Regions from separate parts of the Homo sapiens genome. Here region 2 is linked to region 1. Evidence: fine-mapped expression QTL. A gene starts in region 1. The other region holds a variant in brackets. All regions are shown on one strand. Distances are from middle to middle. Region 1 holds the start of KCNE5 (potassium voltage-gated channel subfamily E regulatory subunit 5). Region 2 has its middle 44 kb from the start of NXT2.

Region 1 (5,379 bases):
TTTGACACAAGTAATGTGTGAGGACTGAGAAGAAGAAGGTCAAACTTTATAATTCCAGTCCTGCTACTTAACCAGTCTGAACCTCAGTTTCCTCTTTGGAAAATGAGAATCCTATTAGCTCATAAGGCTGTTGAAATTAGAAAACAAGTTTAAATGATTATTTGTATGTTACAGTAAAGGGGTTTCTTCCTCCTTTCCTCTCAAAAAAAAAAAAAAAAACCCTAGCTATTTCTAGGTATATGTTAACACAGCAGTCCTCAACCTTTTTGGCACCAGAGACTGGTTTTGTGGAAGACAATTTTTTTCATGGACACTGGGGAGGGGTGGATAGTTTCAGGATGAAACTGTTTCACTTCAGATCATCAGGCATTAGATTCTCATAAAGAGCATGCAATTGTAGATCCATGGCATGCGCAGTTCACAATACGGTTTGAGCTCTTCTGAGACTCTAATGCCACTGCTGATCTGACAGGAGGTGTAGCTCAGGCGATAATGCTCACTTGCCCTCTGCTCACCTCTTTCTGTGCGGCTGGTTCCTAACAGGCCAAGGTCCAGCAGCCTGGGAGGTTGGGGACTCCTGTTTTAACAGATAAGAGAAGTCTTTTTAGCTCAACAGTCATATCACTAGGTTAGCAGTGCTTTGAAAATTCTCTGGCTGTGTCCTCTGGCATTCATCCTGCCAAGTTGCTTTAACAATTCTTTCCTGAGGCCCTCTGAGGTGAGAATATTGAGGCAAGGTGATTAGAAGGGAGCCAGTGTCAGGGTCATGTGGAATGTCTCTGAGGCCTGTTTAGAGGCTGTGAAGCAAGGCTCTGTTTGAGACCCTGGATACAGTTTGGTGCCAACCTCACCTGAACACACAGAAGGCTACAGCCCCTGGGTGGATGGTGGGCTGAAGAACGGTTGGGGAAGAGGCATCGGAAAACCTTCCTTTTTTAACCCATGGCACCTATAGATTGAATGGTCCCTGGACTGAACGGTCTTGAACAGGCAGCATTATTTTCAAGGTGTGCCTAAGGTCATACACTTTTCTTGCTTTCTGCTCTCATTTGGCAACTATGGACAACCAGACCTAGCCAGCACTACCTCATTTTTTCTACCCCACCATCTACAAACCAACCCTTTTCCTTTGTGAAGCTCAGTCTGTTTCCAATTTAACATATCTGGCCTGATCTTTGTCTTGGTGCCTTGTTTTCCCCTAAAAAAAGACAGCCTTTGAGAAAAAAATGGCTGCCCTAAAAGCCATTAGGGCCTAGACCTGTTACCAAGTCTAGAGAGGCACACAGCTGTTTGCTGGCCTAACTGGGAGTAGGGTGAGCATATTCTCTAGAACTGGCACTTTTCAGATCCCGAGATATCCACAGAGTGTAGTCAAAGGGCCTTTTAAAATGTGCATGCTACTCTTATTGGAAGAACTTGGTTTCACTTCTGGGAAGATGGCTTACTTACCCATGGGAAACAGGCTCCCATTATGAATAGTACATTCATGTGCTAAGATGTGTTGACTTTTCAAAAAGTGTCATAGGACATCAGAGCAGGGGTGCTTCCAAGAAGGTGTAATATCACTTATATCACCAGAAACCATTTTGGATAACCAGGGAGTTCTACTCTGCCTTGGCCTTCTAGCAGGTGCCTGAGCACTCAGTCACCAAATTCAGCCTGAGCATCTTCTGAATAAGATGCTCTCCTCCGACAAGGTGGGAGGGGGGTGAAAAGGGGGGCGGGGGGAAAAGGAAAGGAATGAGGACTAGAAAGATAGGCCTGGGTCCCTGTATATGGGAGTAACTTCCATAAAATGTGGACAAGGGGTCTCTGCTGCGGAAAGGCGTCTGCCCTCTCCCTTGAGCGCCCCAAGGCAGAGCTGCCTTAGGGGGCCAAATGCTGTATCTGGGCCAAAGCCTGGCCTGCAGGGCAGGTGGCCAGAACTTGGAAGGAATTCTCTTCCGCAGCCCAGGGTCCAGGCTTGGCCCCAGCAAGCTGCCCTGCCAGCGTCTGCTGCCTGGGGCCTCGCGCATTCCGAGCCCCCGCCCCCTCCGCCCGTCTCCCAGCCTCGCCCCCACTCTTGTCCCCTTCTCCTCCCCCCACCAGCTGTCCCCTTTCCCTGGAGCAGCGAGACAGCCAGAGCCTGGGAAGAGGCGGCCGCGGGCCGGAGGGGGCGTGGTGGGGAAGGGGAGGAGGGGCGGGAGTGAGGGAATAAGGAGGCCCCGCCGTCGGCGCCCCCAGCCACTGCGCGCTCGCCGGAGAGCTGGGTGCTACCGCTGTTTCCGCTGCTGAGCCCTGCCCGCCGGCCGGCCCGCTCGCTAGCTCGCTTCCCCTCGCCCAGGGGGAAAGGTCAGCAGCGTCCTGGAGCCGCCGTGTCACTCCCCGAAAGCCATGAACTGCAGCGAGAGCCAGCGGCTGCGAACCCTTCTGAGCCGCCTGTTGCTCGAGCTGCACCACCGGGGTAATGCCAGCGGCTTGGGCGCTGGCCCTCGTCCCAGCATGGGCATGGGGGTCGTGCCTGACCCTTTCGTGGGCCGCGAGGTGACCAGCGCCAAGGGCGACGACGCCTATCTCTACATCCTGCTCATCATGATCTTCTACGCCTGCTTGGCCGGAGGCCTCATCCTGGCCTACACCCGCTCCCGTAAGCTCGTCGAGGCCAAGGACGAGCCGTCCCAGGCTTGCGCCGAGCACGAATGGGCCCCGGGAGGCGCCCTGACCGCCGACGCCGAGGCTGCCGCGGGCTCCCAGGCCGAGGGCCGCCGCCAGCTTGCCTCCGAGGGGCTGCCTGCCCTCGCCCAGGGCGCTGAGCGGGTCTAAAACCACAGCCCCAGATTGCTGGTTCGCGCCCTCCTCATCTCGCTCATCCCTGGGCGCGCCTCCCACCTTCCACCCCCAACTCCCTTCCAGGGTTCGCCTCATCTGAGGCCCAGATAATGGTGAGAGGCCAGGAGACCTTGTCTGGAAGGCCCTGGAAGGAGAAGCACCACCTTACCCATTCGGGCCAGTTTCTCCCTCTTCACCCCTGCGCCTCCACCCCTACCCCGCACATCCAACTGCACTAAACTGCCTCTGCTCTCTTGTCTTCAGACAGCCCTGACAGCACGCTCCAGCCCTCTGGGAACTGAATCCAACACGTCCAACACTTGGCACTGAACTGAAGCAATGCATTCTATCAGAACTCTGGGCCGTCTAACTGGCAGCTGCTCCAGGGGCTGCCAGGGACTGCTCACTCTGCAGAGCCAACGGGCTTGCCAGGCCGACTGCAGCAGCTCCAGCTTCCAGTTGCCTTAGGGACAGAGACAAAGGAAATGAAGAGACCTCAGACATCTTTTCCCTCCCTCTCTCTTTCAGCAGGGAGCTAGCAGGACACTAGGACCAGTCTGTGGGATAGAATGAACTTAATGGGGGACGGAAGGGGGAGGAGTGCTCAACGGGGAGGGAAATGATCTATGACTCCAACCGTATGATTTTCTTGCCTCCCCAGTTTTCATCCCAGTGGTAACGCCTGATTTTTGGTAGCTATGCCATCTTCTGCTGAGGATTACCATTACTGGGTGTATCACCCCAGTACTTCCAAATGCCTCTCCTCTATTGATTCAGTTGTTATTGCAGTGTCTGCTTCATCCGTGGAACTTGAGGCTCAGATGCCCCCTGCTCTGTAACCCTGGGGAATGTCAGAGGCAGGTAATAAAGGTTGTTTAAACAATAACGCAAGACTCTTCTCTCAGAGATTCCAGCCTTAAGACCCAGTACCATATGGAGAAGGAATCCTTTTTCTTTTGCTTTTGGAAATGATGTTTGGATTTGGGGGTTGGGTGGTTGTGATATTTATATCTATGTAACCAGTTCCAATTTGATATGTGTGATTATGGGTGAAGAAAATGTTTATATGGCTAAATGGGTTGTTTTTTCAAGTGTTTCAAAAGTTATACCTACTTTATTACTTATCCCTCCTTTTTTCTTATTTCTGAAGCACTTTCAAAGATCACAATGCAGTCTTTCAGGATGCACTTTAAAAAACCTTTAAGGCCCATCCCTTTTAGCTATTATCAAACCTAATTTTTAGAAGCCACCTTAATAATTGTTTTTATTTTACTTTTTTTGAGACAGAGTCTCACTGTGTCACCCAGGCTGGAGTACAGTGGCACAATCAAGGCTTACTGAAGCCTCTGCCTCCTGGGTTCAAGCGATTCTCCTGCCTCAGCCTCCCAAGTAGCCTCCTGAGTAGCTGGGATTACAGATGTGCCCCATCATGCCCAGTTAATTTTTGTATTTTTAGTAGAGACGGGGGGTTTCACCATGTTGGCCAGGAGGTTCTCAAACTCCTGACCTCAAGTGATCCGCCTGTCTCGGCCTCCCAAAGTGCTGGGATTACAGGTGTGAGCCACTGCACCTAGCCAATAACTTTTTTGAAGTGGCTTATTAAAAGACAAGGAAGCCACCAAATAGTGTAAATCTGAAGTCAAAGAGAAAATTCTTGAACTGAGCAATCTTAACCAATGATGGGTAAAGTTAGAGGTGTGTGTTGTATTGATTTATTCTCCTTGTCTCAAGAAGGTTGTCAGAAACTTCCCTGCTTACAGCTGAAATGCTTATATCTGATGATGGCTGTTTGGGCTTCATCAACCACACATAAAATCACCTCTTAGAAGTAAGCCAATTTGCTTAAATATAGCTGGGTTCTCTGATAATGATAGCAGGACAAATATATTACCAGTCACTTAAATGCATTGATAACACACAAACCTCATTCAAGGCATTGGGTCTTACCTTCCAGCCCATCTAGCATTTTATTGGAACTGTTAATAAGTTAAGTGAACTTACTTTTATTTCCAGGATTCACTCATTGAAGCTATACTGGCCTTGCCCCATTGGCTCTTCTCCAGTCCTCGTTCCAGCCATAAGGTCACCCCTGAAGGTGAGGGCCAGGGATTGGGCAGCAGTCCAAGACGATGACAGAAAGAGAAGGGAAGCTGTGTGAGCCATTTCAGCCAGGCAGGGAGGCCTGGGGAGGATGTGGAGGAAGGGCACAATATACAGCAATGCTGAGGACATGTGACGGGGCGGTCTTCAGTCCTGTATTCTAAGTAAAACAATGTCACTCATTTATCTGGCATAATGGGGACTCAAGGTTATTATTATTAATTTTTTAAATTGAGACGGAGTCTTGCTCTGTCACCCAGGCTGGAGTGCAGTGTCGTGATCTTGGCTCACTGCAACCTCTGCCTCCCAGGTTCAAGCGATCCTCTTGCCTCAGCCTCCCGAGTAGCAGGGCTAAAGCCTGCGCCACCACGCTGGCTAATTTTTTTTTTTTTTTTTTTTTAGTAGAGACGGGGATTCATCATGTTGGCCAGGCTGGTCTCAAACTCCTGACCTCAAGTGATCTGCGCACCT
Region 2 (5,379 bases), 44 kb after region 1:
ATATGATTTAGTAAGCATACTGGCTCTACCCCTCTCTCCTCCAATTAGCTGTGAGATACATGTGTGTGTGTTTATACATAAACACACACACATACACGCACACACACACGGGCTGAGCTTGATAAGATATATCAAGGGTCCTTCACTGGTTATAGGCAGCACTTACATATTGGTACCGATAAGATGCTGTGGTCCAAAATAAGACTTAGAGCCATGATTTAATTTCTTTTTATGGCTAAATAATATCCCAATATATGGATATACAATATTTAATTTATTTATTCATTAGTTGATAGACATTTGGGTTATTTTGAACCTTATGCTGTTAAATGAATAATGCTGCTATGAACATTTGTGTGTAAGTATTTTTGTGGACATGTTTTCAATTCTCCTACGCATACACCTAAGATTGGTATTACTGAGTCATATGGTAACTCTATCATGACACTTGGAGAAATTGCCAAACCCTTTTCCAAACTTCCTGCAGAAATAGCAATGTATGAGGCTTCTAATTTCTCCACATTTTCACTATCACTTGTTATTGTGTCTTTTCTTTATTATAGTCATACTAATGGGTATGAAGTGGCATCTCATTGTGGCTTTGATGTATATTTCTCTAAAATCTAAAGACGTTTGTTCTTTGATCTATGAATTATCTAGAATAAAAACATTTTCCAAATTAATGGGAGATGTTTTTCTATTGTTATTGATTTCTAAATGAATAGTTTGATGGTCAAAGAATGTGATCTGTATGATACTTATTTTGGGGGTTGTTGAAAATGTCTTGTACATAATTTTTAAAAAATTCATGTGTTTAATATATGTTTATGATATTAACCTTGTTAATTGTGTTCTTCAAATCTTATATCTTTACTGATTCTTTGTCTTTTTGAATTAATAATTGAGAGAGGTAGCACGAAATTTTCCACTTTGATGGTGGATTTGTCCATTTCTTCCTGTAATTTTATCAATTTTGTTTCATATATTTCAAAACTACTTAATTTGATATATGAATAGGTTTCGGATTGCTATATCTTCCTAGTGAATTTAATCTTTTATAATTATGTAGTGGTCCCCTGTATCCCTAATACTGCTTCTTGTCCTAGTGTCTAGTTTTTTGAATATTAACATAGCAATTCCAGTTTTCTTTTTGTTAGTATTTGTTTGGTATATATTTTCCTAGCTGTTTAATCTTCAACTTTTCCGTGTTATTTTAGTTCAGATGGGTCTTTTGCAAATAGCACATAACTGCATTTAAAAAATTAAATTCAGTTTGACAATCTCTTTTACCTAGTGAATTAAGTCCATTTGTATTTATTGTGGTTATCCAAGTATTTGAGCTGTAATTTTTTATGTTCATCCTTCCTTTTCTCCTCTCACCTTGTTCAGAGGGATTGATTTTATTGCTATTATTGTTCATTTAAAATTATTTTTTCCTCTATTGGTTTGGAATTTATATTCAATTTCTGTTCTTTTAGTGGTTAGTTCCAAAATTTTACCAGGCATATTTACCTCAAAAAAGGCTAAAATTAGGTAATATTTTCACCCCATCCCAATCAACAGAAAGACCTTAGAACACTTTAATTGATCACAGTCTCCTGATTTGCAATTTGCTTCTTTTTATAAAACCAAAATGAGACATTTGTTTTATTATTTTATACAGGCCACAGTGACCCATGATCATGCCACTGCACTCCAGCCTCAACAACAGAGTAAGACCTTGTCTCAAAAAAAGAAGAAAAATGAAAAAAGAAATAATGGGTACAATTCCTCAGGTGCAGTCCAACTTCTTCCCCACAACTGCGGTCTTTCTCCCTGAGGCCAGTGGGACCACAGGTGAGGATATTCAGCCTAGACCAATTAATTCAGAGTCTTTGAAAGGAGTCCACCATTGATATGTTTAAACAGCTTTCCAGATGATTCTAATGTACAGCCAGGGTTGAGAACCACTGGTGTGGTGGAACGGTGGAAGGTTTGTGCCAAGATGAGCCATAGAGTGAGTCTCCAATAACTATTATGTTTTGGTTATCGTGTGAGCCGACAGTCCCTTAGAGGAGCAGACAAGATTGAACATTGCGGTGAGTATAGAGTCTTCCATATCTGGCAGAAGGTGATTCAGCCTGAAGTTCTTGAAAGTGACAGCGGGCGTCATTGAGGTAGTGGGCACAGATGTGTTCAGATCCAGCACGTCTGATTTAAATGAGTGAGTCAACTGGAACTACTAGAAAAGCAATCTAT[A/T]TGGAGGCATCAAAAGCTGTCAAAATAGTCAGGTTTTGAGAATCCAAGAAGTTAGAGAAAAGGCGACCACAGAAACCTGACCCACTGCTTTAACTCTTAAGGCATTTGCTAACTCTTGCTGTACAGCAAAAGGGTGAGAATCTGGATCAAACCTAGGTACATCATATTCAAATTTCTGAAAACTAAAAAAAAATTTTAAAGCATCTAGAGGAAAAAAGACACATTACATTCAAAGGAGCAATAATAAGATATTGGCTGACTTCTCAAAAGAAATAATGGAAGCCAGAAGACAAAGTGCTACCTTTAGTACTGAAAAATAACTGCCAACCTTGAATTCTATAATATATATAGTCAAATACTCTTTAAAAAGGAAGGTAAAATAAAGACTTCTCCAAACAAACAAAACCCGAGGGAATTTGTCACTAGCAGATCCAGGCTAAAAGAAATACTAGGGCCGGGTGCATTGGCTCATGCCTGTAATCCCAGCACTTTGGGAGGCCAAGGCAGGTGGATCACCTGAGGTCAGGAGTTAGAGACCAGCCTGGCCAACATGGTGAAACCCTGTCTCTACTAAAAATACAAAAGTTAGCCAGGCATGGTGGCACGTGCCTGTAGTCTCAGCTACTAGGGAGGCTGAGGCGGGAGGATCACTTGAACCTGGGAGGAGGAGGTTGCAGCGAGCCGAGATCACTACACTCCAGCTTGGGCGACAGAGTGAGACTCTATCTCAACAATAGCAACAACAAAAATAGTAAAGGCTATTCTTTGATAGAAGGAAAATTTTCCTAAATGGAAACAGAAATGCAGGAAGGATAAATAGTAATGAAAATGATAAATCCAAATTAATATCAACTTATAAAACCATAAAAATAATATCTTGTGAGATTCCAAGTATATGTCAAATTAACAGTGCATGATGACAGAAACAAAAGTCAAAATGAGGGGAAATGGAGATAAAGTGTTCTAAGACACAGTTTCCCTCCTGTGATCTAAGATGGCTTCTCCAGCTCTTACCGTCATATCCATATATCTCTTCCTCTTAAAGCTGCTTTTCAGAAGTTTGAATACATCACCTCTGCCTTCATTCCAGTAACATGACCTTAACCTAGGTGCAAGGGAGGTTGGGAAATGTAGTCTTCATCTGAGAAGACAAGTAAAACTTAAGGTTTCTATATTTAAAGAAAGAAGTGAAGAGTGGATATATTCAGAAGGTGGGGTGGGAGTGAGGGTGGTAACTATCAGTTTCTGCCACATTGCCCCAGTTCCTGTGTACAATTGATTTGTACAGGTGTAAAAATTCTAGGTGTGGGCAGACTGCATGATGCCGACAGACCAACTAGTCAATGGACATTTTAGCCTTTTGAGGATTCAAATATGGCCTTTATACTACACACAGATACTATCTTGAAAGGCTTTGCTAAAAGTTTCAGCCATGAAATCTTTAATCCTAAACTGACCACTATTTCACCAAATGAGGATAGAGAATTAGTGCAAAGCTCAGTGGATAATATTTGAGTTGTATTCAGTAGTGGGAAGGAAAGAAGTAGCCTTGTTGGTGGTAAAGAATATGTGAACTTACTCTACTGGCATAAGAAAGTTCTCATGGGAATGGCAAAAACTATCACTAATGAACAGTCCATTTGTAGGATACTATGGTGTCCCTTAGATATAGTATAGCAGCAGATATTATAGCCTAAGAAATAAAGTTCCAGAGTGCTAAGGGCAGTGCTTTGGGGAATAGAGCAAATGCTAGAACTAGTTAACTGGTTGCTGTTTGGCTCTAAATAATCAAGGATATTCAAGAAAAAAATTTTCAAATGGACTGGATGCATTCACTGGAAAATATTTTCCATGAAGAAGACTTTTTGGAAGAGATCCCAAGGATCCTATGTAATACACTGGTGGAATTCTGTCACCTCACACTGGCAAGAGGATGCCACTAGCTTTACTCATTATTTCTTGACATTCAGAGGGAAGCCTAAACTGCCTTGTGTTGGAAGCAGCTCAATGTGGGATGACAGCCTCAGCTGCAGTTGGCTAAATTGAAAGGCGAATTCTAAGTTGAAGATTTCCCTGGCAGCCTGACATAATAATGGGAGTCAGGAAAAGCACTCTGACCCATTTTTTCCCTGAAACATAGGGGCATAAGGTTGACTACTTGCTTAAATAAACAGAGAAGGGAAATAGGGGAAATGAGGAAAAAATAAAACTATAACTTCCTATCTCAAAACTGTTATCTTTTCACAGAAGTTGAAGAGGGAGTAAAAATGGGACTATTTCAAGCACAGGATATAATTGCATGATGAAATGAGGGGAAAGGGGTTAAAAAGGAAGACAAGAGGGAGGTAAAAAGGGGGACTTCTAGGAGTGCATGTGCTATGGACATGGTGCTGGCTAAAAGACTCCTTAATGGAAACAGCCAAGCAAAATTTCCCATCATCCTCTAAATATGAGAGTATTCAAGGCTCTGAGTAAGAGCAAAATTTTCAAAGTTGTGAACTGAGCCTACATAATCTGGAAGGAGTCTGATGTGCATGCAACTGCTGGGTTACACTAATAAACAAATATGTAATTATGAATTGTGATACTTCTTCTGAAGAAAGAAACAGGGTGCTGTAACCATGAATACTTGATAGGTTACTTTAGCCAGAGTGGTCAGAGAAGGTTTCTCTGAGGACATAGAAATTTTAGCTAAGCTCTCAAAGTCGAGAAGTCAGCCATTCAAGGAGCTGGTCAAAACGTTTAGGCAGAGGTTGGAGCAAATGCAAAGACCCTGAGGAGCAACTGGGCTCAGTATATTAAAAAAAGAGCAGTAAGCCCAGTGTGGCTAAAGCAGAGTAAGAGAGAAAGATTATGATGCAGAGACAAGCAGGGGCCACATTACGCAGGGCCTTGTAGGCCATGGTAAGTGTGATGGTTAATTTTATGTGTCAACTTGACTGGGTTAAGAAATATCCAGATAGCTGATAAAACATTGGTTCTGGGAGTGTCTTTGAGGGTGTTTCTGGAAGAGATTAGCATTTGAATCAGTAAACTGACTAAAGTGGATCCACCCTCACCACTGTAAGCGGACATCATCTATTCCATTAAGGGTCCGGAGAGAACAAATAGGTGGAAAAAGGGCAAATTCACTCTCTTCTT

The links. PIP is the estimated chance that this variant, and not a neighbour inherited with it, causes the effect.
Region 2: its variant is the best candidate, but not a certain one, in a credible set for the expression of KCNE5 in monocytes (TOPMed, PIP 0.55).

What each region holds. Positions count from the first base shown.
Region 1 is chrX:109,622,015-109,627,393 of GRCh38, reverse strand. It overlaps KCNE5 (potassium voltage-gated channel subfamily E regulatory subunit 5), which reads left to right and starts at 2,222. Exons shown (of 1, transcript NM_012282.4): 1 at 2,222-3,694. The coding sequence starts at 2,374. The coding sequence ends at 2,802.
Region 2 is chrX:109,578,078-109,583,456 of GRCh38, reverse strand. No RefSeq gene overlaps it. Among named protein-coding and RNA genes, the nearest start is that of NXT2, 44 kb to the right of the region's middle. The variant A/T (reference allele first, on the strand shown) is at 2,239.